Linked DNA regions of Homo sapiens. The protein of the gene in region 5 interacts with the protein of the main gene of each other region in a pairwise test. Each region holds a gene or a part of one and is shown on either strand. Other genes may lie near its edges.

Region 1 (5,416 bases), on a different chromosome or scaffold from region 5:
GAAACATTTATTGAGTGCCTTACCTACTACAGTACATGCCAGGCACTCTGTTAGATAGAATATGGGCAGATATCACCTTCAAGGTGTTGAAAAGAAAGTGATTGAGACGTTGTAAATGAATAATTACAATGTAACTGAGTAAGGGGCTGTAATTAAATCATTATAACGAAGCAAGGATCTTGGAGGAGACAGCAACTTTTGTTTTCTCTCCTTTTTTTTTTTTTGTATTTTTTCTAGTAATTACACTTCCTGAACAATCAGGAAAAATGACTTGTGAGTTAGAAGTGTAATGACTAGAATTTAGGCAGGTTAAAAAAGAAAAGGAGATAAAAAGGAGGTACTATTACAGGAAGAGTAACAATGATGTATGCCCTGGAGGAGAGTGTTTAGGAAAATTGTAAAATGTCCGATGTGCTTGACATGTAGTGGGCGCTGGGAAGGTGATGAGCAGATACCTAAGGGATGGCTGCAGAATTAGGGTTTCCTCCTTCCGGCATTAGGAGGCAGTTGAGCAGGTCTGTATTTTAGAGCAGCAGTATGGAAAACAGCCGAAGGAAGAGAGGGCCCTAGAAGGGAAACCTCCAAGGAGGCTGCAAGGAATGAGGCCTGCACAAATCTTGTTCGTTCACTTACATCGATTGTGCTTCTACCACTGTGCTTCTACTATGTGCCCAGCACAGTTTTAAAGGGTTGGGGATACAGAAATGAACTAGACAGACAAGGCCCCGGCCCACATGGAGTTTGATATTCTACTGGGGAGAGACAGACAATACAAAAACAAACAAGTAAACAGCAAGATTATGAGGAGTACAAAGAAGTAAATAACAACGGGGTGTCATGAAATAGAGTAAGGTAGGTGGAAGGTGGGAAGAGCTTCTTTAAAGGGAAGGTCTTTCTGAGGAGAAAATGGAAATGCAGAGGAAAGAGTCAGGAGTCAGGGATCAAAGAACCTGAGAAACCCCTGACATTGTTTTCAACATGTGGTATATAAGTGCATTTTTATGGGGAGATTCTCAGAGGGACATGGCCGTGATCTCATCCCCCCAAATGTTTAGTATTCATTTGCTGTACCTAAATATATAATTAATTTTGTTTTAAATTTTTCTCTATATCAAAAGGTGGGGGTGATGATAGCTATGCAGATATATCTAACTAGATAGAGAGAGATTCTTCCCCCACCCCTCCACTTATTTCATGAAGCTGTAATAGGAGATATGCATTTCGGGGTACAAAATTGGGCTGTGTGATTTACATGTATCCTCTACATGAAAAAAGAAAAAAAATCATCTTTTGTTTTTCCTATTGAAAGGCCGACGACGGACCTGAAACTGACCGGATGAGCTTGGTGTCAACAAGGATGCCTCTTCTTCTATGTTAATATATTGTACAAGCATAGATATAACTTCACATGTATCAATGCGTATATATTGTAGCTTAGTCTGGAGGACTACGTACCGGGCGGTGCTCCTGGCTTGATGTGAGCAGGCGGTGGGAATGGAGGGTGGAGGCGGGTGGGCCGGGCCCCGGGTCCCAGAGGCCCACTGGCCATGTCGCGGAGAGCTCAGCCTGGAGAGGCCCAGGGAAGGGCCTGGAGGCCTCGGGGAAGGCCTGGGGAGGGTCAAGGAAGCCCGAGGAGGCCCAGGAAGGCCGAAGAAGGTCCAGGACGCCTGGGGGAAAGTCCGAGAAGGCCCGAGAAGGCCCGGGAGGCTCAGGCTTTCCCGCGAGGCCGGGGGCGGCCCCTTCAGGCCAGGATGGCCGAGTGGGCTGCGCAGCCCCGCGGGGGAGGCCGGGCGGGGCGCAGGGACAGGGCCTGAGGCTTGTTGTCCTCCCCTGGCGGCCCCGTGCGTCCCGCGGGCCCGGCGGCCGGGTGACCCCCGAGAGGCTCCGCGCCTGGGCGGCCGGCGGCGACCCCGCGGCCCGCGAATACGCGTGGACCTTGTGGAACGCCGGGCCTCCCCGGGCGCCCCCGCTCTCTGGTAGTTGCCGGGAGACCCGGCCGGTGGGGAAGCCCGCGGAGCCGCAGCCCCGGCCCCGGAAGGTCTCTCTGGGCCCCGGGCCCGACTCCCACCCCTGCGCCGGCCCGCGGGCTTCGCAGGCCCTGCACTGCCGACCGGGCTGCGCTCAAGGCCGCCAGCCGCCCGCCGCCCTCTTTGTCCCCCCGCTGCAGGAAGGCCGCGGCAGAGGGGGCGCCCTCCAAGCCGTCAGCCACGCACGCGGAGGCGCTCGGGCCTCGGGGCGGCGCACCGGGAGAGCACGCCGGGGAGGACACGTGGGCCTTCGCGCGGTGGGTTGAGAGCCCCGGCCCCGGGGAATCCCGCAGCCCCCTCCTGCTACCCCTGGAACTGGGCTCCCCACCCAGTCCGGCCACAGCTCAGGAGGAAAAGGGGATTCCTCTTCACGGGGGCCTTGCGGCTCCCTTGAGACACGCGCCTTCAAGCACTCTGGCCCCTAAAGCTCCTGTCCCCCAACTCGCAGTCCCCAAGGCGTCCTTTGTCCCCAGGGCCGTCCTTCAGGTGCGGTGGCCTTTTCCAGGAGCTGGATGCCCTCCTTCTTGACACACACCCGGTGGCCCCAGGCAGCGCCACCTGCTCAGCAACCGCCTTCCTCCTGCATTCAGACCTAGTGTCTGGCATGCACACACTCGTGGACCAATAACCGGTGTTGGCTGAAAACCTACCTAAACTAAATCTCCTATTTCTTCATACACTTTTCTGTAGGAGACAATCAATTGTAAACGATTAGCAGATAGACCGATTACTGCGGTGGCTTTAATTTGTGATTCTTGGCCGGGTGCAGTGGATCACGCCTGTAATCCCAGCACTTTGGGAGACTGAGGCAGGTGGATCACGAGGTCAGGAGTTCAAGACCAGCCTGGCCAACATGGTGAAACCCCATCTCTACTAAAAATATAAAAATTAGCTGGGCGTAGTGGTGCTCGCCTGTAATCCCAGCTGCTCGGGAGGCTGAGGCAGGAGAATCGCTTGAACCCGGGAGGCGGAGGTTGCAGTGAACCGAGATCGCGCCACTGCACTCCAGTCTGGGCAACAGAGCGAGACTCTGTCTCAAAAAAAAAAAAAAAAAAAAAAGTGATTCTTTCCAGATAGCCATACCTTAATCCAGTGACTGTTTTGCTTGTTACCTTAGAGTTCTCTAATTCTTTTACCTTAAACGGCAGTGGGTTAAAACCCTTTAGGTACCTTGATTGATTGGTGCGGAAAATATTGTTTGGTCCTGGGGGCATTTTGTTGTCTCCGAAATATGCACGGGGTGCTTGCCTGGCCTAGTTGTAAGGGTTCAACCCTGCTTTCAAATGGAGCAATTGTTTTGAATGAATAAAAGGAGACTTTGTGCCCCTGTTTTCTAAGTTCCAGATAATTCACCATAGTTTGTTCCAATGTGTATTTCATCTTCTTAGCTGATATTTGCTTTCTCACCTCTGATCTCAATTTCCTAATCTTCTGTTCTGAGATCTGCCAGTTTGCTGTTGTCTGTGCTCCTTTTGAGTCAGGCTTGCCCCTTGCTTCTGGTTGGTTTCGTACTGTCACCCCCACCCTGCTCTCCTAGCCCCTCTCTTCTGCTTTCTAAGCATTCTCTTACCTCCTTTAGATGGGAAATCAAAACTCACACTTTCTTTTTTATAAATGTTGACCCTTACCCATAAATGTGCCTATCCCGCAATCTGTGTAGGATTTTAAGGAAACAGAGCAACAGCTACAACAAAATGGGGAGAAGAAATGAGAACTGTGCTAACAGCCTACGTGTGTCAAACATCTCTCAGGAGGTATGGCAGGCGCTGTTGAACTTGAGTGTTTGGGCAGCGGCTCCTGTTGCTAACACGTAACTCCCATGGAGTTTTCTTGTAGTGATGCCCTTGCTGCGTTTGCATCGTGGGCAGTTTATCCTGTGTTTTCCTTTTGGCACATTTGGAACAGCAAATGGAAATTTTCTATTTCTTTTAACAAAGGGAAAATTAGCCAGCTCTTCTCCAAATGTCAAACATTTCTAATTGCAATTTGGCTTTGTTAAAGGTGCTGCCTTGTTATCAACCAGGCAGTGCTCACTTCTTTTGTTTTCACACACACACCCTTTGTGAAAAATATTGGTAAGGCAGGTGGGATATCACAAAGCATAATCAAGTCCCAACTCTTAAGAAATTTGCAAACTGTCAGACTTCATGTTTAGTTAATGAGCATTCTTTACCAGTTGATCAATTTGGTTATGTTAATTTTTTGTTGTTTTGGTGTTTTTTGTTTGTTTGTTTTGGAGACGAGACTTAGTCTTCCTCTGTCTCCCAGGCTGGAGTGCTGTGGCACGATCTCAACTCACTATAACCCCCACCTCCCGGGTTCAAGCGATTCTCCTGCCTCAGCCTCCCGAGTAGCTGGGACTACAGGCATGTGCCACCACGCCCGGCTAATTTTTGTATTTTTAGTAGCGACATGTTGGCCAGGCTGGTCTTGAACTCCTGACCTCAAGTGATCCACCCGCCTTGGCTTTCCAAAGTGCTGGGATTACAGGTGTGAGCTACCATGCCTGGCCTGGTTTCATTAATTTTATTTTAGAATTGCAACAACACAGTTTCATCAGCTGAGGATATTTCTCTCACGTGCATTTCATACAAAAGTATCAGGATTATATAGCTGAAAAAAGCTTAAAAATCCACCAGACATCGTAAAAAAGTCTGAAGGGGTGCATCTCACACATGAACATAAAAACCCAGTCATCGTGCTGTGAACTACAAAAGGATCTTTAAAATACAAATAACTGGGCCTCACCCTCATTCTTTTTTTTTTTTTTCTTTTTTTTTGAGACGGAGTCTCACTCTGTCACCCAGGGTGGAGTGCAGTGGTGCTATCGTGGCTCACTGCAACTTCTGCGTCTCGGATTCAAGTGATTCTCCTGCCTCAGCCTCCCAAGTAGCTGGGATTACAGGCACCCACCACCACGCCCAGCTAATTTTTGTATTTTTAGTAGAAATGGGGTTTCGACATGTTGGCCAGGCTGGTCTAGAGCTCCTGACTTGAGGTGATCTGCCCGCCTCGGCCTCCCAAAATGCTGGGATTACTGCCACTTGAGCCACTGCGCCCGGCCCTCACCCTCATTCTTTAAAATCAGGATTTGCAGCATTTTTTTGCAACTATTATTTTTAAAAAGCTCCCCAGGTGATTCTCATGTAGAGATTAGCCCTTGTACATATCATGCCAGAGAGCAGAGAATTAATTTTATTAATTATATTTTTCATAAATCTATAGAGAATGATAATCTGCAGTCTCCCTTCCAATGTTCAACTACCCTTCCTATCAGGAGATATCTCTTTGTGGATAAATTAATCCTCATGCTGTATTGAAGCTTATTTCTCTCTGTTCCTCCTTAGTGAAGAGATTGTATCTAATAATACCTCACATTTCATTTGCTT
Region 2 (4,803 bases), on a different chromosome or scaffold from region 5:
AATCCTATCCACATGATTACAACCCTATTCCTCACATATGTCCAAAATGATCAGGACTCTCAGTCTCTTCCTAGTCACTCTTCCCACATTCACCAGAAACCTCAGACCCCATTCTATTCCCAGTCTTCATCACCAATAGAGAACCAAAAGTCATGGCCTAGTTTGGCCCCAGTGTAGCCAGGTACAGAGGAAAGGATTACCGACCAACAGGGATCAGGAAAGCTGAATTCTCAGCCCTTGAGGAAGCATCACTGGAGGCTTCAGATCAGCTGCCCCACCATCTGGGCAGTTTATCACTGTGCTCTCTCCCTCACCAACTGGCCATGGGCTCTGGGATTCTGGCTATATCATGTTCTACAAATGGCCCAGGGTGGGAGCATCTGTTTCTGGAAGTACTAAAGGAGGGGCTTAAAAGCTTGTTTTTCTGCCTTTCTGAAAAACTGGGGCTAGCCTCCTCAATTCCTCTGGCAGTAGGATGAGAGGAACAACCAATTGTAGCTCGGACCTGCTCCTTGGCATCCCAGCAGTCGGGCAGTCCCACAGGAGCAGTGCATATGGCTGCCAGGGCAGAGGAAATGGCTCCAGGTATATCCTCACTCTGCTCTCGCAGTGGCTGGCTCACTTGCGGGGCTCCTGTGGAGAAAAGCAAAGAGTAACTCCAAAGGCCTGAGGCTCTTGCCCTAGACAATAGCACCAGTACTCACCGACATGGCAGCAGGAGTAGGGAACCTAAGGGAGTGGGAAGAATGCAGGATGAGGTCTGTTTGTTTCCCTCAGATCCCCATTCATTCTCTCAGTTCACAGTTATTTATTGAGCACCTACTAAATGCCAGGTGCGATCTAGGTGATGGCAATAGAAAGAGCGGAGCCTGACCTATGCAACAAGTAAGTCAAGAGAACCTCCCTTCTCCACTCTGGTTACCTTGGGGAGTGTGGACAGGGAGCTGTGGAACTGTCAAGCCATGAAGGAGCCCATCCAAGACAACCTGCTGTGTCGTCAGCAAGCTGGAGTAAAAGGCTTTGGAGATGGCCCGGCTGTTCCCATCCATGGCTTCGCACAGGACAGTAAAGCACTAAAGGAGAGAAGTGCAGAGGTAGCATCAGGGCATCAGAAGACTGGGCTTAGTGTAAAAAACAAGAAAACCCTGAGGATCTGAGGAAAGAGGACAAAAACCAAAGCAAACACATGTCTAATTTTAAGCATTCTTCACACCAAAAATGCATTAGAACTGCTTTCATTCATGCTTCAAGGACAATAATTTTAGGTGTCAATCCTTCTATTCTCTGATCAGATGCTCCCTAGATGATGTTTCTCAAAGTATTTTTTATAGACTGTGAGTATAAGAATTCCTAGGGGTCAGGTGCAATGGCTCATGCCTGTAATCCCAACAGGGGATTGGGAGGCCGAGGCAGGTGGATCACTTGAGCTCAGAAGTTTGAGACCAACCTGGGCAACATGGCAAAACCCTGTCTCTACTAAAAATCCAAAAAAAATAGCCAGGTCTGGTGGTGTGCACCCATAGTCTCAGCTACTCAAGAGGCCGAGATGGGAGGATTGCTTGAGCCCGGAGGGTGGAGGTTGCAGTGAGTCAAGATCATGCCACTGCACTCTAGCCTGGGTGACAGAGAGACCCTGTCTCCAAAAAAAAAAGGAAAGAAAAGAAGAAATCCTAGGGATTCCTGGGTCCCTCCCAACTCAGTCCTACTGATTCAGAATTTCAGGAGGTAATTATTCCAAACTCCCCATTCTATTCATAGCATATGACATGAGAAGTGCTGGCCAATAGCATGAGTCACTGCTGGCCAAAATTTAGGTTAGACAGTAAAAGCTTTCTGACTTGAAAGGGTGAGGGATATTAAAACAGGATCTCAGACCAGGAAAGTCTGAGTGAATGCTAGCTAAAGGCAAGTAGTAGTCCAGATCTATGTTCCCAATTACCAGTTTTAACAATGACCAGGCAATTATTTACTTCCTTACAAATATATGTTCCTCTCTATCTCCTCTGAGGTTAGTCAGAACACAGCTATTTTCTCATTCAATCCTCCATTCTCCTGTCCCTTACCTCCAGGATCTAGGGAAAAGAACTGCATAGTCTACTAATCCTCAGGACAAACGAGGTTAGACAATACTAGATGATCTGCAAGTCTTTTCAAGAAGAAGTCGTTCTATTTGTGGTCCCCTGAAATATGCCAAACTGCTTAAAGCCTCTGGGCCTTTATATATGTTACTCTTTCTGTATAGAATTTCTACTTTGTGCCTCATTTACGTGGCAAACTGCGATGTATTCTTCAAATGCTAGCAGAGATGATTTCCTTCTTCGAGATTTCTTCTATGATACTCCAAATAGTGTTAAGTGCATCTTCTGCAGTGGTTAACTGCATCTTCTTCATAAAATACAGCAGTGCTCTTGTATTATATGCAAAGTTCTAATGTACTTTTCACTGTTGTCCTTAATCCCTTTACCTCTCCCCTATTAAATTATCCCTAGTCCCTTGAAGGCAGGCACTTTTTCTTACTCACATGGCATATGGCATGGTGGGAATTTAACAAATGTTTGTCATATTAACTTGATCTGACCCTACATAGTCATAAGAAAGGGGATGGGAGAAACACGGAGAATGATAGGAGACACAGAAATCTGGAAGTGGGAGCAGATTACCATAAGGCTGTCCCTCCGCAAAGTCTGCTCAGAGTCATCTGGTTGGGCCAGCAGTTTCCCCAACAGGTCCAGAAAAAGGTTGGCAGCCTCCTGAAACACCTGCAGGCTGGGGGTGGAAAATGAGCCCATGATTTCTTATCTCTCTACTAAAAGCCTGGATGTGGTGAATGGGTCAGTCCTGGGCAGGTAGGAGAATCTCTGCAAAGGGACACATCAGAATGTTCCTCCCTTCTCCCTTGCCACACACACACATACACCCTCCAAGCCCCTTCTTTGCCATTTTCTCTAGGTTATTCGCATATTTTTTTTCTTTCTTTCTTTCTTTAATCCAATTGGCTTCCTGGAATAGGTTATTCACATCTTGACCCTTCCATTTTAGGACCATGGTGACTGCTGACTCTTAGAAACTGTAAGTCTTGAGGCCAAGTTGGAGCTGTCTTAGGGTCCTTAAAAGGACTATGAGTGGCCACTCAGCTGATTCCTAAACCTGTAACAAATCACAGCTTCTTCATACTTGGCCTGTTCCTAAATGGGAAGGGCACTTGGGGTAGAAACAGAAGCCAAACTTGCCAACAATGCAAAAGCACTTCTTATCCTACCTGTCACTTGTCTGGCTCCTCTCCAGATTGAAGGTACAGGCAAAGTAGGCCTGAATCACAGCCATCAGGTCCTGTAAGAAGGTCCCATACCAAGATTGCTGCCCAGGAAAAGGAGAAGAGAGTAAGGGCAATGTGAAGGATGGAAACAAAGAATAGAAAAAACAGTAGAAAGGGTGTATAGAGACCCAGTCAAGTTGATCAAACAGAAAGGGACAGAAGAGAAGTATAGGCAGAGAGAGAGTTCTAGGGGTAACAGAGAATCTGCCAATGGGCTGTGAACAGCCTGGATTAAATGTGTCTTGTTTGGCCTGAATAGCATTTTGGAGTATAGGAGGTTCTATTTTTCAAAAATCTTTTTCTCTAAATTCCTTAAAATCACCCAAGATTAATACTCATCAACAAAGTGCAGCTTTCCAGCTGCCTCATCCTAGGCCCTATTAGGCATTTACACTGACTCTGAAACATTCCCCATCCTCTCAGTCCAGCTACCGTAGGACACAGCAGGGGGAAGTAGAGGTTTGGCCCCAAACACATTGAGTCTCTATCCCAGCTCTTCCACTTGTTATCTCTGTGACCATTTACAAATTAGTGACTGTGTATGAGTTACCTCTGAATTTTAGTACTCTGCTCTGTAAGATCAGGTCAATGAAGCCTAGGATCTAACATTTCAAAGCACAGCGCTCTAAATATTTAAAAATTACACATAAAAATTTGGGTTTCTACCTTTTCTTAGAAAACTAGAAGATCTGGCTAGTTTTCTCAGGCCCATATTTCCCTGTGGCAACAATGGGCTGGAGGCTGAGGAAAGGATGCCTCTACTCTATTTAGAGGAGGCATGTGAACTCTAGTTCATCATATTCCCCACAACTCATATAGTCACATGCATAGCCTACTTCATGGCAGACCTTATCTGCCTGGCCCCAGAAGGCATTAGAGTTTGCAATTAATAGTCTACTAACTAGAAAGAGGAGGAAAGAAAATAAAAGGCAGTCAGACCAAAGAGAGATGGCAATCTGAATGAGATAAATCCAAGAAAAAGAACCTCTGTAAGTCTTCAGAGGCTTCTGGCCTGGTGCTTACCTGCTGGAGGCTGTTGCTCTCCTGACTGTGCCTGAGTAGACTCAGCAGCAGCCCAGGAAGCCCTGCCTCCCGGCAGAAGGAATACAAGGCAACAGAATCACTGCAGCTGGAGAGAAGACTGCTCAGGACCCGGAATGCAGGCAGGATGTGGGAAGCACCCTCCAAGATGCCTTTCAGGATCTGGGTGACATGAGGGAAAGAGGCAACGATTGATATTTTCAGAGGTAAAAGAAGGAGAACTACACATACCAAGCATCCCCAAGGAGCTGGGAAAGCAGACCACATGCTTGCATTCCTTTCTTTGCAAGTCTAAAACACAGAGAAGGAAAGCAGGGAAATAGGGGAACTGTACCAGGGAAGAAGACAATAGATGGTCAGGTTACCTAACACAGAACACCAGTGACCAACGGATAGGGGCCTCTCCTCAGGATCTCTGTCAGACTAAGTGCCATTCCCATCTGCTC
Region 3 (4,803 bases), on a different chromosome or scaffold from region 5:
GAAGCAAGTCTGATAAATAACTTTTTATCATCTTTGACTCCTAAAAATGGAATTAAGACAATTCTTGTCTTTTGGATCAAAACATTTTTCCTAAAACTTGTAAATAAATTGTTGACTATTACATCCATAATTTATTGCTAAAGAGACATTACTAAAAATTATAGGTATCTGTGATTACCTGGTCTAGGAATATTCTTGCTAATGGAGCACAGTCAGTGGATCTGATGAACCGCACAACGTCTGCCACACTCCACTTCAAGGGGTTACTGTCCAGGTGAAGCCTTTCAGCAACTTCGATCCTTATTTCCTTCATTCCCCACAACACAATCAAACCAAATGGTGTTACGGCTATTTTATTCTAAAAAAGTCTCTCTACCTAAATTCATAATCTTTCAAGACATGATTTAAAGTGGTCTTAGGACATGATTTCTCCCAGCAAAGATGGCAAAGACCCACGTGCATCAGGTACTCAGGAAATGTCTGTCTTTTATAATACGAAGTATCAATGGGAAAGAATTTATCTCAAAGTTCCAGCACAGATAATTTAGACAATTTAACTAAGAAAAACAGGGTGCTGAAGAGAAGGGGATGATAATTCCATTGAGAGAAGGCTTAACTAAACTACCAGGAGGAATCTTTACTGCTTCTGTTCATGGAATATTCTTAAAAAGCAATCTAGTTTTTGAACACTAAATTGTTCTTTAGTGTTATACATATGTTATAAAATGTTCATATGTATATAGTAAATAATATATTAAGCCAAATGGCTTAACCAGAATCAAAAGGATAACTTTTTTCTACAAAACCATATATATTATGAAACATATTAAAAAGGCAGTTTTCCCAAAAATAAATGACAAGCTACAAATAAGCTAGCAATGGGGCTTTTTTTGTTGTTGTTGTTAAAACAAGCAGCTACTCTGAGAGAGACTTTCCCCCTATAAGTAGATGATCTCAACTAATCCTTGAAACACATGTAAATCACTGCATTTGGGGTCACTTTACAAGAGACCCTGGAAATTCTACATAAGTCTGTATTGAAAGAAGTAGAATGTCAATATCACTAATAATCATATTCCAGATGGAAATTCCAGAGAGAAAGAAAGAAAAAAGAAACTATTTTTTAAATGGTACCTTTGGTGAAGGAGGTTTATTTTCATCGTCAGAAAATGAAAAGGTGCGAAGCTCCCTTTTTCTCCTTTGTCTATCTGGAGGCAGCGATGTGGATATCTCACTTTGGGTGGGAGAAGAGGAGCATGACTTTTTTTCTGACATTTCTGATTCTTCCTGTAGCTCATCCTGCTGCTCGGATGTACTGCCTTCACTTAGGGAATCATCATCCCCTTCATCTGGGTCATCCTCATCTTCACCCCCACTTCCCTGCAGGAAAAGGAGAGAAGTCTCATTGAAATTCAGGACATCAATCCCAGGTTTCATATGATTAAAAAAAAATAATAAAGAAAGAAAAGAAATTCAGGACAAACCAGTTCTTGGGCCACAAAACCATCTTCTATTGGCCAGAGATCTGAGTTAGAAAGACCTGCAGGTATTCTGTGTCCATACTATAAAGCAGTGGTCACTTGGCTTCAAGACATTACAGGCACATCACAGATCTCATACCTGGGGAGAGCCCGCTGGGGTATTATCAACAGATGCAGAGGAGCGTTTCTTCTTATGAACAAAAACATTTTTCCGCCTCTTTCTCCTCTTACTGGCTTTTTTCAGGGCACAAGCTAAGTTACTATGCCCACCAGGTGGCCTCCCAATTCTTTTATTTTTCTTCTTTCCGTAATAGTGTGCTAAATGTGGATGACAAAGAAAAATGAAGTAGCTTCATTATTTTTGTGTACCTCAAAACCACAAGAGATTTTATTAGCATAGCAAAAAACAGGTACATTGTATTTGATTGGGGTTTAAATTCCATAGAGTGGAATAAACAGATCTGAAGTGCACGGTTTGACTAGTACTGAATGATCCCTCCATATCAAAGTATATAGAACATCTTCAACCCAGAAAGCTCCCATGGTCCCTTCCCAGTCAGTACCCCTTACTAGAAGCAGCCACTATTCTAAACACTATCACTATAGATTAGCTTTGCCTCTATGGAACCACACAGTAAGCACTTTTTTGTGTGTGACTTTTTTTTTTTTTTTTTTTTGAGATGGAGTCTTGCTCTGTCGCCAGGCTGGAGTGGAGTGGCACGATCTCGGCTCACTGCAACCTCTGCCTCCCAGGTTCAAGCAATTCATCTGCCTCAGCCTCCTGAGTAGCTGGGATTACAGGCACACACCACCATGCCCGGCTAATTTTTATACTTTTAGTAGAGACGGGGTTTCACCATGTTGGCCAGGATGGTTTCAATCTCTTGACCTCATGATCTGCCCGCCTTGGCCTCCCAAAGTGCTGGGATTACAGGCATGAGCCACCACGTCCAGCAGCCATGTGTGACTTCTTCTACTAGGCATAATGTTTTTGAGTCGTGTGTTTTATTATATGTTTCTTTTCTATTTGGATATCTGGTTGTACCAGTGCTATTTGTTAAAAAGAATTTCCTTTCTCCCTTAAATTTCTTCATCTCTCTTGTTGAAAATCATTTAACCATGTTAAGTTTGGCTCTATTTCTGGACCCTGTGGTCTGTCCCATTGTTCTATTTTTTTGAGACAGAGTCTGTCACCCAGGCTGGAGTGCAGTGGCGTGATCTTGGCTCACTGCAACCTCCACCGCCTGGGTTCATGTGATTCTCCTGCCTCAGCCTCCTGAGTAGCTGGGACTACAGGCGTCTGCCACCACACGCCCAGCTAATTTGTGTATTTTCACTAGAGACGGGGTTTCACCATGTTGGTCAGGCTGGTCTTGAACTCCTGACCTCAGGTGATCTGCCTGCCTCGGCCTCCCAAAGTGCTGGGACTACAGGTGTGAGCCACCGCACCCGGCTTGACTATTCTTTAATGCCACACTCTTGATTATTATAACTTTATGGTTAAAAAAAGAGAGAGACTAAGTCTTCCAACTTTATTCTTTTTTCCAAATTGTTTCAGCTATTCTAGATCCTCTGCATTTTCATATAAATTTTAGAATATACATTCCAGAAATGAAACATACATATTCTAGCTGAGTTATGTATTAAAGTAATATCAAAATATAATACAATTTTGTGAAAAAAATGGAAATTTTCTAAAGGATACGAATCCATTTGACATCATTCAAATTACTAACTGGGAAAAATTATAACTGTCCTTCTAAATTCTAGGCTAATTTCAACTATATTATTGTGAAAGATAAATTCAGACAAAAGGCACAATAAAATCCACATATCTTCCCCTCACATATCTTCCTTCAGAGTAGTGTGCTTATATATGCATTTACATGAATAGTATTTTTCACTCAGCTCCTAATAATTGCAGTTTCCTAAACTAAGTGCTGAGTCTGATACAAGAAGCTAAGATAATTCCTACTCTTAAGGAGTTTACAATCCAATAAATATAAATAGAAACTAGAAGGTTAGACTTATAAGATTTTGTAATTTAAATACTGATTAGAAAGCTCGTCATACTAAGTATGGACCTTGGATCAATAGCATCAGTGGCATCTGGGAACTTGTTGGAAATGCAGATAGATACTCAGGACCCAGATACCCACAGACCTGATACATCAGAAGCTCCATTTTAACAAGATCCTTCAGTGATCTGCATGCACTATAGTTTAAGAGGCACAGATCCCTAAAAGAAATCTTTCCATTTTAACAAGGTAAAAATCCTCCTCTGTAGTGATTCTCCCAAGTGACATAGGGCTTGTAGGATTTAAGGAAAGGTAGGATCAGAATTTTGTCTTTGGGTGGCAATGCCTTGACAAGGCTCCAAATTGTAAATTTCATCCTATGTGACCCCTGCCCCAGTTTCTCAAAGAAGATAAGCAAGGACAGCGAATAGGTGCTATGACAGTTCAAGGTGAGGTTGCAACTACCTCCTCTCCTATTTCCACCTCCCCAACTAGTGTGGCTTCATTGCTGCTCTTCAGAGACACTAAGCAAGCTTCTGCCTCAAGCCTGTGCCCTTGATGCCCCCTCCCCAGAACACTCCCACCCAGCTCTCTGCACAGCTGGCTCCTGTTTCCTTCAAGGTGTTACCTGTCAGAAAGACTTCCCTGACCCCTTGCATAAACAGCACCCCACCTCCCAGCCTTCCTCACTGTCCTATTTTGCTTGCCCACCTTGCTTCACTGTTCCCCACAGTATTTCTCTAAATACTGACCCCTCTCTAAATTTCTTCCCTTGTTTGTTATCTGTCTCCCACATTAAAGGTAAACTCACTGAGGATAGGAATTTGTTTTCTTTATTGTTGTATCCCAGTGCTAGAGCAGCATAAGCACACAATGAGCACAAAATATATACTTGCAGATTGTATGAATGAATTACATATCCTATTAGATACAATAACTAATTTATATACATGCTATATATAAAAGTTGGCACACTAAAGCCCATGAGTCAAGTCTGGCCCATGACCTGTTTTGGTATAGCCCCCAAGCCAAAAATTACCCTTACATTTTTTAAAGGGTTCTTTTTTTTTGGAGACACAGAGTCTCGTTTTGTCACCCAGGCTGGAGTGCAGTGGCGCAATCTCAGCTCACTGCAACCTTCATCTCCCGCTTTCAAGTGATTCTCCTGCCTCAGCCTCCCAAGCAGCTGGGATTACGGGCAGGTGCCACCACACCCAGCTAGTTTTTCTATTTTTAGTAGAGACGGGGTTTCACCATGTTGGCCAGACTGGTCTCGAACTCCTGACCTCAAGTGATCCGCCTGC
Region 4 (5,443 bases), on a different chromosome or scaffold from region 5:
GTTTTGAAAATAGCGAAAAAAAAATGTCCCCTACACTTCCTTTCAAAGGTAGCCTCAGAGCTAGTCTGGCTGCGCAGATGACCAGTGAAAATAAATGAAAACTGCAGTACGGTTATAGATGATCCTTACACCTCAGCTTGTTCTCAATTGCAAAAAAAAAAAAAAAAAAAAAAAATGCATATAATCTAACACTCTCCTGTCTAAATTGCTTCAAACTTTCTCAGAACGACCTTCATCGTGGCGGATTCTTTTTCTGCAAACCTTTACAGGTTGCACCTGCTTCACACAGAACCAGCGGAAACAAACTAGGAGGAGATAAAAGAGAAGAAGTAGGAAGGTTTAAACCAACACAAGTCGATTTTGTACCCAAAAAAAAAAAAAAGTTTAGTCTAAAAAGGGAGGTCCAGTGAGGAACAAGACAGAGGGTGAAACAGAAGTCTGGCTTACTCCCAAGGCAGAAATCATGACTCATCAAAGCTTTCAGAGGGGACAGAACCAGACTTTGCATTTGTCTTGAGGTCATCTTCGAGCCAAGAAATGCTCTCTTAACCGGGACCTGAGAACTTTAAGGGTCTGCGACAACTGGCTGTGAGGCCTTGGGCAAAACCTCTAACGTCTCTGGGGCTCGGTTTCCTCATCAGGTGAAGCCAGGGTCCACTCTAGCTTTAATAGTCTCTCCTCGAGATTCCCGGCCCCATACTAAAGGGACCTGGTCCACTGGGGGGAGCTGCAGAACTTCCCTCTTCTCACAAACTCCAGGGCCCTGGGGCCCCAACTCTCGGGAGATGCTGAAGTCTTGGAGGAAGTTGGTTCTGCCGGCTCGGGGAGAGGGTGCAAGAGCAACCCTCTTTGTGAAACGGGGCCGCGACTCCACGAGTCCTGTCTCTACGGACCCTACTCCCTGTGATTCCGGAAGCACCTCCCTACCCCTTCCCCAGGTTTACATGCTCCAGAGATGAGGGCCAAGCGGATACCGGGGCAAACTAGCGTGGGGCTCAAGGAGGCACACAGAGCAGTGGTCTCAGTCCTCGAGACCACTCCTGCCAAGAGGAGGGCTGGAGAAGTCGGGAGAGGTGCCGGGAGCGGGGGAGAGGCGCGTAGGACAAGGCAGGAGGAGGGCGGCCCTTATCGGTTCCCTATAGGACTGGCTTCGCTGCCGGGGTCGGAGATTCCTCGGCGCGGAGCTAGGGGCGGGTCCGGAGGCGGAGGCGACAGCGCCCGGCGGGGTACGCGCGGCTGCGACCCCGTCACTCCCCCGCCGCCTCCGCCCCTAACCCTCGGCCCCGTGCGCGAGCGAGCGAGGGAGCGAACGCAGCGCAACAAAACAAACTAGTGCCGGCTTCCTGTTGTGCAACTCGCTCCTGAGTGAGTCGGGGGCCGAAAGGGTGCTGCGGCTGGGAAGCCCGGGCGCCGGGGACCTGCGCGCGCTGCCCGGCCTGGCCGGAGCCTGTAGCCCGGGGGCGCCACGGCCGGGCTCGCAGTCCCCCCACGCCGGCCCCCCGGTCCCCGCCGAGCCAGTGTCCTCACCCTGTGGTTTCCTTTCGCTTCTCGCCTCCCAAACACCTCCAGCAAGTCGGAGGGCGCGAACGCGGAGCCAGAAACCCTTCCCCAAAGTTTCTCCCGCCAGGTACCTAATTGAATCATCCATAGGATGACAAATCAGCCAGGGCCAAGATTTCCAGACACTTGAGTGACTTCCCGGTCCCCGAGGTGACTTGTCAGCTCCAGTGAGTAACTTGGAACTGTCGCTCGGGGCAAGGTGTGTGTCTAGGAGAGAGCCGGCGGCTCACTCACGCTTTCCAGAGAGCGACCCGGGCCGACTTCAAAATACACACAGGGTCATTTATAGGGACTGGAGCCGCGCGCAGGACAACGTCTCCGAGACTGAGACATTTTCCAAACAGTGCTGACATTTTGTCGGGCCCCATAAAAAATGTAAACGCGAGGTGACGAACCCGGCGGGGAGGGTTCGTGTCTGGCTGTGTCTGCGTCCTGGCGGCGTGGGAGGTTATAGTTCCAGACCTGGCGGCTGCGGATCGCCGGGCCGGTACCCGCGAGGAGTGTAGGTACCCTCAGCCCGACCACCTCCCGCAATCATGGGGACACCGGCTTGGATGAGACACAGGCGTGGAAAACAGCCTTCGTGAAACTCCACAAACACGTGGAACTTGAAAAGACAACTACAGCCCCGCGTGTGCGCGAGAGACCTCACGTCACCCCATCAGTTCCCACTTCGCCAAAGTTTCCCTTCAGTGGGGACTCCAGAGTGGTGCGCCCCATGCCCGTGCGTCCTGTAACGTGCCCTGATTGTGTACCCCTCTGCCCGCTCTACTTGAAATGAAAACACAAAAACTGTTCCGAATTAGCGCAACTTTAAAGCCCCGTTATCTGTCTTCTACACTGGGCGCTCTTAGGCCACTGACAGAAACATGGTTTGAACCCTAATTGTTGCTATCAGTCTCAGTCAGCGCAGGTCTCTCAGTGACCTGTGACGCCGGGAGTTGAGGTGCGCGTATCCTTAAACCCGCGCGAACGCCACCGGCTCAGCGTAGAAAACTATTTGTAATCCCTAGTTTGCGTCTCTGAGCTTTAACTCCCCCACACTCTCAAGCGCCCGGTTTCTCCTCGTCTCTCGCCTGCGAGCAAAGTTCCTATGGCATCCACTTACCAGGTAACCGGGATTTCCACAACAAAGCCCGGCGTGCGGGTCCCTTCCCCCGGCCGGCCAGCGCGAGTGACAGCGGGCGGCCGGCGCTGGCGAGGAGTAACTTGGGGCTCCAGCCCTTCAGAGCGCTCCGCGGGCTGTGCCTCCTTCGGAAATGAAAACCCCCATCCAAACGGGGGGACGGAGCGCGGAAACCCGGCCCAAGTGCCGTGTGTGCGCGCGCGTCTGCGAGGGCAGCGGCGGCAGGGGGAGGAGGAGGCAGAGGCGGGGTGGCTGGACCCTCGGCATCAGCTCATTCTCCCCTGCTACACACATACACACACAAATAATGTTTCTAAAAAGTTCAGTTGCGACTTTGTGCCTCGCCTGTCCTGTTCATCCTCGTCCTGGGCCGGGGAATGCTTCTGGGGGCCGACCCCGGGATGCTGGCTAATTGCTGCCGGCGGGTTCCGTCGCCGGTGTGACCCTGGACGGCGCGGACGGCGTACAGGGGGTCCCGGGAGGGGCAGTGGCCGCGGCACTCGCCGCCGGTGCCCGTGCGCGCCGCGCTCTGGGCTGCCCGGGCGGCGCAGTGTGGACGCGGCTGCAGGGAGAGGGGAAGGGGGAAGAGGGAGGGAGGAAGGCAGCCGGGCGAGGAGTGTGGATGTGTGTGCGGCCGCGAGGGCCGGCCTGTAGCCAGCTGCTTCCTGAGTGTGAGCGCCGGAGGGGGAGGGGGAAGAGTGGGGGCGGGCTCGCGGGTCACTAGGCTGGCCAATTCGAAGGCCGAGCTTGTGTCTCCCTCTTGACGCATTCACACACACACACACACACACACACACACACACACACACTCCCCGTGCGCCAGAAGTCGAGGAACTCCAGAACAGGGTAACAGCAGGGAGACACTTCGCCTTCTTCCTGGCCTTATTTGTTAAACTGACTTATTTTAACATGAAAAAGTGTTAGTGTTTAGACAGGATTTGATGTCAGGTCATAAAAAAATAAACAAACAACCAAAAAAATCCGGTAGTAATACGGAGAGAATAACACAGTGAAAAATGGCAAAAGGGTTGCTTTGAAATATCGGATCGGATGCACATGACAGCTTCGAAACTGGATAGGTGAAGCACTAAGGAAGGCTTTGGCATCCTTTCCAAGTATAGGCAGGGAAGAGAGGAAGGTGATGGAAGTGTTAGAAGGGTATAAAATTCTGAACACAGGCTGTTAAGAATGGAGGTATATTCCCTGCGTATGTTACGTCTATAAAGTGGCACTTTATCCTTATGAATTCAACATCCTCAGCCTCATACCCCACCTAAGCTCTGACTCGCCACCGCTTCTGCTTGTGTTGACCAGAGCCCTCAAAAGGTTGTTACAAGAAAGTCTGCTCCTAGTAGTTCATCACATGTATTGCCACAGATGCAAGGACTTCCATCTTGGGAATCTAGGTATGTAATGCACACAATATCCTCCAGGTAGGCCTTTCTGCAGTTGACAGTATTATTCACCATCATGAATGAAATGAGTGAGGATGCCACCAGACACTTAGAATTTCACAAGTCCTTATATTCTATTCTACTGTTACCACTCCAATATAAATTAGCAATCAGGTAGTAGATGCTTTGATCAAGACAGAAGTCCTCAAGGACACAAATGACTTACCCCAGAAAGCCAAAACTAAAAGACTATTGGCAGTTTTCATTTATCTAATTTCAGTGGGAATACTACTAGGCTTGGTCTGTATCCATGATATTAACATAACCAAAAGAAGCCTGGTTTCCACAGTACTTTTTCTTTTCTTTTCCTTCACCTTGGGACACAAACTCATCAGAATATTTGTCAGCAGAAGTAGGGGATGAAAAATAGTAAGAGGTCAGGATATGTCATTCTGTCAGTTTTCCAGTTTCTCTCTGTTCATCTCTTTTAAATACAAGTATTCAAGCCCAAGATGGCAATAGATGGGCTCAACCACACGTAAGAAAAGAAAATACTCATAAAATGAAGCATGCAGCAACATCACAAAAACAAAGAAACCAAGTGGTGGAAATTGCCATGACTATTCCATTGTGGCTAGTTATTGCAACATGCCTGACATTCACATAAAAACTCTTCCTCATTAACTCCAGCCTTAAGGAACAGAGCAAGATGGCAACACTAACCCTTCAATGCATCATGGGAACTTCTGTTCATCAGATTCTTGTGCTGTACAACTGCTTCCCAGGAGCAAGACAAGCCTGGGTGGAGACTGCAAAAAACCTTTCCAATGTCCCTCAAATATCATTTTAAATACAATGGTTTTGATGCATAGAATGGTATCCTAGGGGCTTGCAGAAGCTTCTAAAACTTCCCAAATGATGGGAACAGCTTAGCTGGAAGAGAAAAAAATATAGTGCTACACCCAACTTTAATCAATAGCTCATGGAAAAAAACACTGGGAAAGTTAGGAGTCATCAACCTGGAGATCCCCAAAATCTCTTCATTTATAAGAGCCCAAGAGTGGGAATGTCATTTTATTTAGGTGTGATTTTCATGAACCTCTAACATTCCTAAAATATTTACCACTGAAGAGGTATAGTGCTTTGGTTGAATTTTTTTCTTTTTTTTTTTTTCTGGCCAAGAATGTAGATCTGCAATGTTCTTATATTCCATGGGTTATAGTAAAAATGCAGTTGTTCTTGTACCAGTACAACCCTGGAATGACTCAGAATGAGATCTGTACCTCTTCTGGGCTGAATTGGTCAGCAGGGGTGAGGGAGGGTGGTAATGAGAGACAGTGAGAAAGGAAATCATGTAGTTCCA
Region 5 (4,740 bases):
TAATCCCAGCACTTTGGGAGGCCAAGGCGGGTGGATCACGAGGTCAAGAGATTGAGACCATCCTGGCCAACATGGTGAAACCCTGTCTCTACTAAAAATACAAAAAAAATTAGCTGGGCACGGTGGTGGGCACCTGTAGTCCCAGCTACTTGGGAGCCTGAGGCAGGAGAATGGCGTGAACCCGGGATGCGGAGCTTGCAGTGAGCCGAGATCGCGCCACTGTACTCTAGCCTGGGTGACAGAGCGAGACTCAGTCTCACAAAAAATAAATAAAAATAAAAATAAAACAGCTTCATTGAGGTATAATTGGTATATTAAAAAACTGGACATATTTAATGTATCTAATTTAATGAGTTTCGAGATACACATACATCCATAACACCATCATCACACTCAAGGCAATAAACATATCTATCACCTCCAAACATTTCCTGCTGCCCCATCTCCCTTTTTGTGGTAAGAACACTTAACATGATTAACATGAAATCTACATTCTTAAAAAAATTTTAAGTAGGTAATACATTTTCGTTGACCATAGGCACAATGCTATACAGCAGCTCTCTAGTACTTATTCACCTAGTATAACTGAAACTTTATACCCATTGAACAACAACTCTCCATTTCCCTCTCCCCACAGCTCCTGGCAACAACTATTCTATTCTCTGTCCCTGTGAGTTTATTTCAGATTTCTCATATAAGTGGAGTCATGCAGTATTTGTCATTCTGTGCCTGGCTATGTCACTTAGCATGATGTCCTCCAGATTCATCCACCTTGTCACATATGCCAAGATTTCCTTCTTTATTGAGGCTGAATAATACTCCGTTGTATGTATATAACATATTTTGTTCATTCATTGATTCATTCATTTTTTTTTTCTTTTTTGAGACAGTGTCTTGCTCTGTCTCCCAGGCTGGGGTACAGTGGCATGATCTCAGTTCACTGCAACCTCCACCTCCCGAGCTCAAGTGATTCTCCTGTGTCGTCCTCCCGAGCAGCTGGGATCACAAGCACCCACCACCATGCCCAGCTGATTTTTTTTTTGTATTTTTAGTAGAGACGGGGTTTCACCATGTTGGCCAGGCTGGTTTCGAACTCCTGACCTCAAGTGATCTGCCCACCTTGGCCTCCCAAAGTGCTAGGATTACAGACCTGAGCCACCATCCCTGGCCCATTTATTCATTTTTGATGGACATTTAGGTTGTTTCCATATCTTGGAATAATTGTGAATAATGCTGCAATGAATATGGGTGTGCAGATATCTTTTCAAGATCCTGATTTCATTTATTTTGGATACATATACAGAAGTGGGATTGCTGAATATAATAGTTCCATTTTTAATTTTTTAAGGAAACCCAGTACTGTTTTCCATAGTGGCTGCACCATTTGGCATTCCCACCAACAATGTACAGGGTTTCCATTGGTCCACATTCTTGCCAACATTTGTTATCTTTTGTTTTTTGATAATGGCCAACAGGCATATGAAAAGGTGCTCAATTTCACTAATCATTGGGAAAAAGCAAATCAAAACCACAATGAGATATTAACTTACACATATTAAGATGGTTATTACATGTGTATCTTTCCGGCCAGGCTCTGAGCTCACAATCACAGGGATTGTGTCTTTTTTGTCTTTATCTCCAAAGTCTAGCATAATGCTCATATGTCAATAATTGTTCTGGTAATTTTATCCTAAATTTGCCCTAAATATAATTTCAAAAGAGCTTTAGGGGTAATAGGGCATGAAACAAAATTAAACTATGTTTTGAATTTCTTTCTTCAATACTCAGAGACAGAGAAAATTATAACATTCAATTACATATTTACTTTTATTTACATTAGTAAGGCTGTAAATTATGAATGTAAATGTGCTTAGCTAGAACAAATATTGCTCAGAATAAAAAAGATATACAAATATAATGCTAATATACAATATAGGCTATCATAAAAATTTGTATTTGTGTACACACATACATAATTGGCTACATTCGACAATGGGGTTCATTTGATTCCTCCGTAGTAATTAGAACAGGAGACTTAACTGATTACAGCCATGATGCGGTTACTTAAAAACACACACACACACACGCACACAGGCACAGGCACACACATGCACACCCCACATAAATAAGTTTGGGAAAATTTTAAATTTTCTCACTTAGGACTTTTCAAAGCCATCTCAAAGGAGCTTCCTCAAAACATTTAATGTTGGCATCACCCCACAAGTACTCAGAAATAAGTGTTAAAATAGAAATCCAATCCAGTAATGGGAAACTGACTTAGATTATCTTATTTGTTTGTATATTTATTTGTCATCTATCTCTCTTATTCACTGCTCTATTTTCAACATCTACAATAGTGCTTAGTAATGAATACACATGCAGTACACAAAGGTGCTAACACAATATATGACTAATGATGAGGGCTATGCACATTTATACAGAATGAGAATTATTTAGTCCAAAAAATATCTGGAAAGCATAAATGCTGTAATTGGATAAAGCTAAAATTCTATTACTCTATTGAAATCAGATATCAAGTGATACTTTTAAACTAAACGTGAGGTAATGGTTGAAAAGGGATTAAAACACTGGAATTTGGGCATGCCAAATCCAAATCATTGAATATTCAATTACAGATCTAATAAAGCAGGTAGACCATGAATAGGATAATTGCATATGGAGACCTTGGTTCCAGTCGCGACTATGTCACTGTGAGATTTTGGCCAATGAGGTACAATTTCCTCAATTATAAAATGCATTAGAAATAGCTGCCCTCTCTTCTTTACAGAAGTGTTGTAAGAAACAAATACAATCGAATTTATATACTCTTATTATTTAATCATCCATTACAAGCAAAATGTAAATGTGATTGTCCTTACTACAATCAACACTGAAAACAGTGAATTCAGGATGTTGCTGTGGCAGGCCAGAGGTGGGTCTCTTGAGTCTCCATTGAAATAACTTGCTGGCCAGCAAGTTAGTGGACAGCGTCCAGCTGCGCCTTCTGGATTGGCCACAGCATTTGCAGGTCTTTTTTTTTTGTTGTTTTTCTTTTTCCCAGGATAGCCCCAGACAATGACTTAACAGGATGGGGCACTAAGACCCAGACATTACTGCCCAGCATAACACTGTCTCCTCTCTGGGCAAACTTTGCTTTGGGCCTCACTATGAGCTGGCCAAAACTCTCCCAGAGCTGTGTCTGAATCTCATGCTTTTTCTCCTCACTCCCCACACCTCCCCTCTTCCCTCTCACAGGTGGGAGCCTGAAAGCCCACCCCATACCCATACTTCTGTTTCTTCTCCCTTTTATCTTTCTCAAACATTAACCTCCAATCAGTGTTTGCACTTCTAACTTTGTCCTGGTGTCTGAGTTCTAGAAAACCCGACACCCAATCCCTCAAACCCCAATCACCAGAAGCAGCCCATGTCAGTATTTTCCATTTTATATTTTTTACAGAAGTGTTCAAATACACAAAAATATTGTAAGCTTTTTATTGCAAGATGTTTAATTTCTTTTTTTTCTTCCTTTTCCCCTCATTCTTGCTGTCATCTTAAGGATGCTGAATTTCTACTTCTTTTTTCTTCTTGGAATTATATGTTGTATTTGTGAACAAGAGACGATAAAATATTATTTCAAACGTACACCTTATCAAATGCTAACCCCCACTTGACATTCACCTATTTTATCAACAGCAATGGTTGAGAGGACTCATAGACATTTCTTGAGAACATAGCATTGAATGGCATGGCCTCAATGAATCAGTGAGTTGGAGGTATCAGTAATCTCCCAATAGCTTTTTAGGGTGAGGGTCAGATTCCTTCTTAATGTGAGCCTGGAGCTCTTCTGTAAAGTCCTTGTTTCCATACTGTCCCTGGCTTGTTGAATTCCAGTAGAGAATGACCAGCAACCATACAGCTTTTAGCTTTGACCGGACCAGTGAGTTCTTTCGTATCCAAGCTCCAATTTAAACACTCTTGTCTCTTGGTTCTATGTAATCCTCTGCAGGCATACTCTACGATAGGCTCAGCTGGGTCTCAAAAGTTCCAGCTTTACAAATAGCTTCTTCATTAAATGCTCCTGATGTAACTTATAGGCATCACTTCACATTGACCTTGTGAAAGGAGAACACCTGAGCAGGTATTTGGATAGTGGGTAGATGCTAAGAGCTTTTCCCAGAGAGCTCATTGTCTGCTGTCTTACAAAAGAGATAATCCTGCACATTGTTTTTATTGTTTTCATTTGCTTCTATTGCCTTTTAATTATTTTTGGTTTTCTTTCTGCATCAATGCTACAATTACATAAATACTCTATGAATTTCCTTTGTAAGCTTTGGTAGCATTTGACATCATGATATACTGTTATTTTCGACAGACAGTATGTTTTTTAAAAAAGCTTATTCCCACTAGAAGAGTTTATTTATTTTAAGGTGGTAAATCTGTATTTTCAAATTGTTTCTATCTTTCTCTCTCTCTCTCTCTTTTTTTTTAAATTAGCTTTTCAACTTGATTGTAAAATGTCACAGCGCAGAGAATGTACCTGGGAAGATGAGCTTGCATGGAGCCAGGCAAAGCAGATTACAATCTGGGCTCTCTTCTCATATTGAGTAAGATCAATAGCTACTTCGAGCCTCTGTTTCCTCATCTTTATTGTAAAACAATAATAAAATTAAATCCTCTTAACCTCTACAGGGAATAATATCATGGCCTGTGCAACGTTACTGCAAGAATTAGCACTAATTT
Region 6 (4,213 bases), on a different chromosome or scaffold from region 5:
CAAAATAAGATTTAGTTGTATTTTGTTTTCTCACAGCCACCACAAGACTGAACAAAATATTTTCTGTTTGGGCATTCTGAGGAAGCTGTATTACAGTTAACTGTTAATGCTGTGTGAGTTTAGAAAAAGTCTTGATAGTAAATCTAACTTTTAACACAGTTAGTGCATGAACTGAGTAGTTAAACATTTCCGTATTCAGACAGGAATAGTGGAAAAGGTATCTTAGGTGCGTTACTCAATCCAAATGTGACTGAATCATTACAGTGGACCCTCATGGTGCATTGAAAAGAAACTGTTTTATATCCAGGTTTCAGAGGACCTGGATAAATAAAAGCTTTGGATTTTGCATTCAGTGTAGTTAGTTGGATTTTGGGACCTTTGCCTCAATGTTAGCTACTGGGATTGGCATATGTGTTCACAGGCAGAGTAGTTGATCTCACACAACGAGTGCTCTCACAAAACTGGTGTAAGTTTCTTATGCTGATGAGCCCCCGCTTTTTTTTAATTTGGTGCCTACAACTTTGTTACAATGATTGTACTTGCTGGGCTATCAAGTTACAATGCTCTTGGTCTTTTTTGCTGCTGTTTCGCTATTTGTCCTTACACCTAGGCCAAGTACCAATGTTAGCTGTTGGAAGGGATTCTGTTTATTCATTCAACATGCAACTATCTAACTTTAGGGAATGGAAGGAAGTTCATTTTTAAGTTGTGTGTTGTCAGTAGGTGCAGTGTCTAGGGTAGCGAATCCTGTAAGTTCAAATTTATGATTAGGTGACAAATTGACATTGAGATTGTCCTTTTCCCTGATTAAAAAATGAATAAAGGCTTTTTAAAGAAACAAACAAACAAAAATATTGTGTCTAAGATTATCAGGCAGCACTAGAGGGTCAGACTGGGTCTGGGTAGAGTTGGTCACAGCCAGGCTGACTTACTGCTGTCACCTGTCAGATGAAGAAGAGCAGACAAGGGTTTTTCAGTTGAAGCCCAGAACCTCCCTGGCCCTCCCTACTCTAGCTCCTGGGAATATGACTGCACCATAGGATGGACAGGGGCCCTGAGTCGGGAGGAACTGCCTTCTTCTCATGGTTGGTTCATAAAAGCATGTGAATTGTGGCAGAATCTGTGAAGAGGGGTTTGCACTGAGACGACAATATCCAGTTAAAACATTGCACCTAATGAGCAGAGCTTATAGATTTGGGTTTTCCCTCCTTTTTTAGATTTTATTTTGTGACTTTCTCAATTCATAAAGAGATTGAAAGAACATTCACAATTTTCATTAGATTTTGATTCATCCTTCTGGTATTTCTGTATGCAAAAACAAGCATATGTATAGATGTGTGTTTTCTTGCTTCCCTTTCTCTCTTACAAAGAAAAAGTAGCATATGAACTTCTCCTCTCCATAGGCGTTGCCTCACTAGCAATGTAAGAGGGTACCTATTTTCTTATAACCTCACCAATGGAGTGCATTGTCAAGCTTTTGAAGAATTCTTGCCAATCTGATAAGTGAAAGCTTGATGGCATCTTAGTGCAGCTTTAATATATATATCTTTCATTATGAGGTTGAGCCTCTTTTCACGTTTTTAAGGGTCATTTTGTGTCTTTCTGAACTGTCATGTCTTTTTTCTTTTTTCTGTCAGGTTTTAAAGATCTCTTTACAAATTAGGGAGAGTAATACTTTAAGTTATCAGCTTTATTTGATTGAGGGTGGGTGGGTTTTTTTTTCTTTTTTTGACCATGCAGAAATTTTTCTTAATATAGCTGAATATATCAATATTTGTTTTCATTGCTTCTGGAAATTGTCATAGATAGGCTTTCTCATGCCCAAATTATAATGACTTTTGCCAGGATTTTCCTCTAGTACTTTTAAGATTGCATTATTTTCCATTTATGTTTCTGATATAGTTTGTGTTTGTTATGGTATATGGTATTAAATATGGCTCCAAATATATAATTTTATGTGACTATTCTGTTGTTGGCAGCCCTATTTATTAAAAGACCATCTTATCATCAGGAATGAGATACCACCTTAATGGTGGTGAAATGCCACCCTAATATTATACTAAATTTCCATATGTACTTGAATCTATTTGGAGACTTCCTCTTCTGTTCTTTGGTCTCTTTGTTCATGTGCTAGCACCACACTGCTCTGATTCTGTAGAGACTTTATGATATGTTTGAATACTAGGTAGGCTAGCACCCCTCATTGCTCACCTTACTGTATAATTTCTTAGCCATTTTTACATATTTTTTAATTCTATAAACCAAAGAATCAATTTGTTTAGCTTGAAACAAACTCATTCATATTTTTGAGGAGATTGTATTTAGTTTGTATTTTAAGTTGGGAAATTTGACATCTTTATGATACTGACTTGTCCTAGTCTAGAACGAGGGAAGCTTTTTTTTTTTTTTTTTTTTTTTTTAAGACAGAGTCTTGCTCTATCACTCAGGCTGGAATGCAGTGGTATGATCTAGGCCTACTGCAACCTCCACCTTCCAGGCTTAAGTGATTTTCATGTCCCACCCTCCCGAGTAGCTTGGACTACAGTTGTGCACAACCACAGCTGGCTAATTTTTGTATTTTTAGTAGAGACAGGGTTTCGCCATGTTGTTCAGGATGGTCTCGAACTCCTGGCCTCAAGTGATCCACTCACCTCAGCCTCCCAGAGTGCTGGGATTACAGGCGTGAGCCACTGCGCCTGGCCAGGGATGCTTTTTTATATAGTCAAGTCTACATTTGCATTTTTCAGCAGTGTTTTAAAGTCGTCCCCATTTTAGAGGGGCACACTTTTTTAGTGTTTTATTTTGGTGGCGTTGCTATTATAAATGGGGTTTTCTCTTACATGATAACTTCTAAGTGGTTACTGTAGGTATATGTGAAGGCTATTGATTTTGTATGTTAATTTTATATCCTGCTCTCCTAGTGAATTCCTTTATTCTTTAAGTCTGTTCTAACATTGATACTCTCAGATTTTCCAGGTATACACTAAAATGCTTGCAAATAAAGAGACTTTTTCTTTTCCAGTTATTGGGGCTCTAATTGTTCTTGCTTTCCAATTGCATTGGTTAACACCTTCAACATAATGTTAAGAGTGATTATTATAGTGAGCGTCCTTGCCTTATTTCTGACCTCAATTGAAATGTCTGTTGTGTTTCCACATTTTAAAAGTTGCTAGCTTTAGGACTTAGATGTAAATATTTTATATATTTTATCATTGATCATAACTCTCATCATCTAAAACATTGGGTTTCTTGTTGTTTTTGTTTAGCTTCCAGAAAAGCGTCCCACATTTCAGCAACTCCTGTCTTCCATTGAACCACTTCGGGAAAAAGACAAGCATTGAAGAAGAAATTAGGAGTGCTGATAAGAATGAATATAGATGCTGGCCAGCATTTTCATTCATTTTAAGGAAAGTAGCAAGGCATAATGTAATTTAGCTAGTTTTTAATAGTGTTCTCTGTATTGTCTATTATTTAGAAATGAACAAGGCAGGAAACAAAAGATTCCCTTGAAATTTAGATCAAATTAGTAATTTTGTTTATGCTGCTCCTGATATAACACTTTCCAGCCTATAGCAGAAGCACATTTTCAGACTGCAATATAGAGACTGTGTTCATGTGTAAAGACTGAGCAGAACTGAAAAATTACTTATTGGATATTCATTCTTTTCTTTATATTGTCATTGTCACAACAATTAAATATACTACCAAGTACAGAAATGTGGACATTTGTCTTAATATTTCAATGTTTTCAAACTTCAGTAGGCATGATAATCAAATGCAGAGTTTATGAAAAGATTCCTAGAAACTACCTCCATAAAACCTGGCGGAGGAGGTCTGAGTGCAGCCTGTGAATTTGTATTTTTAGCAAACTCCCAGATGTTACTGAAGCAGTTGTTCTGAACTGCCCTAGGGGACCTCATTATATGGTGGGGTATCATTAGGTGGTCCATTACCCAATCCAAATGGCACAATTCTCGTCTAATATCCAGATTAGTACAATGACTCTTTATGTCATGTATAAAACTAAAGTTAAATAATATTAAATAATACATTAAATATGTTCACATAAAGCAAATTTTTTAAGATGCTGAGGTACAATTTCTAGAATTAATTACATTGTTGCTTTCTAATCATCTTTTTTTTTTATATAAGTAGACAGTTTATTTGGGTCAAGTTTAAGGATTATAACCTGGGAGCAAAGACTCAAGTTGCC

What was found.
Region 1: the proteins of CLNK (region 5) and FAM217A interact in a two-hybrid assay, tested with the Homo sapiens proteins (one large-scale study listed by BioGRID and IntAct).
Region 2: the proteins of CLNK (region 5) and STK36 interact in a two-hybrid assay, tested with the Homo sapiens proteins (one large-scale study listed by BioGRID and IntAct).
Region 3: the proteins of CLNK (region 5) and SFMBT1 interact in a two-hybrid assay, tested with the Homo sapiens proteins (one large-scale study listed by BioGRID and IntAct).
Region 4: the proteins of CLNK (region 5) and GLIS3 interact in a two-hybrid assay, tested with the Homo sapiens proteins (one large-scale study listed by BioGRID and IntAct).
Region 6: the proteins of CLNK (region 5) and BMX interact in a two-hybrid assay, tested with the Homo sapiens proteins (one large-scale study listed by BioGRID and IntAct).

What each region holds. Positions count from the first base shown.
Region 1 is NC_000006.12:4,075,720-4,081,135, reverse strand, and holds the start of FAM217A (protein FAM217A), read left to right. Parts: upstream 1-1,998; 5' UTR 1,999-2,284; intron 2,285-3,080; exon of another isoform or gene 3,081-3,661; coding exon of another isoform or gene 3,662-3,721; coding exon 3,722-3,781; intron 3,782-4,656; exon of another isoform or gene 4,657-4,747; intron 4,748-5,416.
Region 2 is NC_000002.12:218,688,413-218,693,215, reverse strand, and holds part of STK36 (serine/threonine-protein kinase 36), read right to left. Parts: intron 4,520-4,803; coding exon 4,340-4,519; intron 3,358-4,339; coding exon 3,260-3,357; intron 2,767-3,259; coding exon 2,661-2,766; intron 1,074-2,660; coding exon 923-1,073; intron 634-922; coding exon 506-633; intron 1-505.
Region 3 is NC_000003.12:52,905,935-52,910,737, forward strand, and holds part of SFMBT1 (scm-like with four MBT domains protein 1), read right to left. Parts: intron 1,800-4,803; coding exon 1,621-1,799; intron 1,381-1,620; coding exon 1,135-1,380; intron 308-1,134; coding exon 179-307; intron 1-178. UniProt on the Homo sapiens protein: Histone-binding protein, which is part of various corepressor complexes. Mediates the recruitment of corepressor complexes to target genes, followed by chromatin compaction and repression of transcription.
Region 4 is NC_000009.12:4,296,753-4,302,195, forward strand, and holds the start of GLIS3 (zinc finger protein GLIS3), read right to left. Parts: upstream 3,317-5,443; 5' UTR 2,669-3,316; exon of another isoform or gene 2,549-2,668; intron 1,745-2,548; exon of another isoform or gene 1,528-1,744; intron 1-1,527. UniProt on the Homo sapiens protein: Acts both as a repressor and an activator of transcription. Binds to the consensus sequence 5'-GACCACCCAC-3'.
Region 5 is NC_000004.12:10,484,592-10,489,331, forward strand, and holds the end of CLNK (cytokine-dependent hematopoietic cell linker), read right to left. Parts: 3' UTR 1,804-4,740; downstream 1-1,803. UniProt on the Homo sapiens protein: An adapter protein which plays a role in the regulation of immunoreceptor signaling, including PLC-gamma-mediated B-cell antigen receptor (BCR) signaling and FC-epsilon R1-mediated mast cell degranulation.
Region 6 is NC_000023.11:15,552,807-15,557,019, forward strand, and holds the end of BMX (cytoplasmic tyrosine-protein kinase BMX), read left to right. Parts: intron 1-3,266; coding exon 3,267-3,341; 3' UTR 3,342-3,713; downstream 3,714-4,213. UniProt on the Homo sapiens protein: Non-receptor tyrosine kinase that plays central but diverse modulatory roles in various signaling processes involved in the regulation of actin reorganization, cell migration, cell proliferation and survival, cell adhesion, and apoptosis.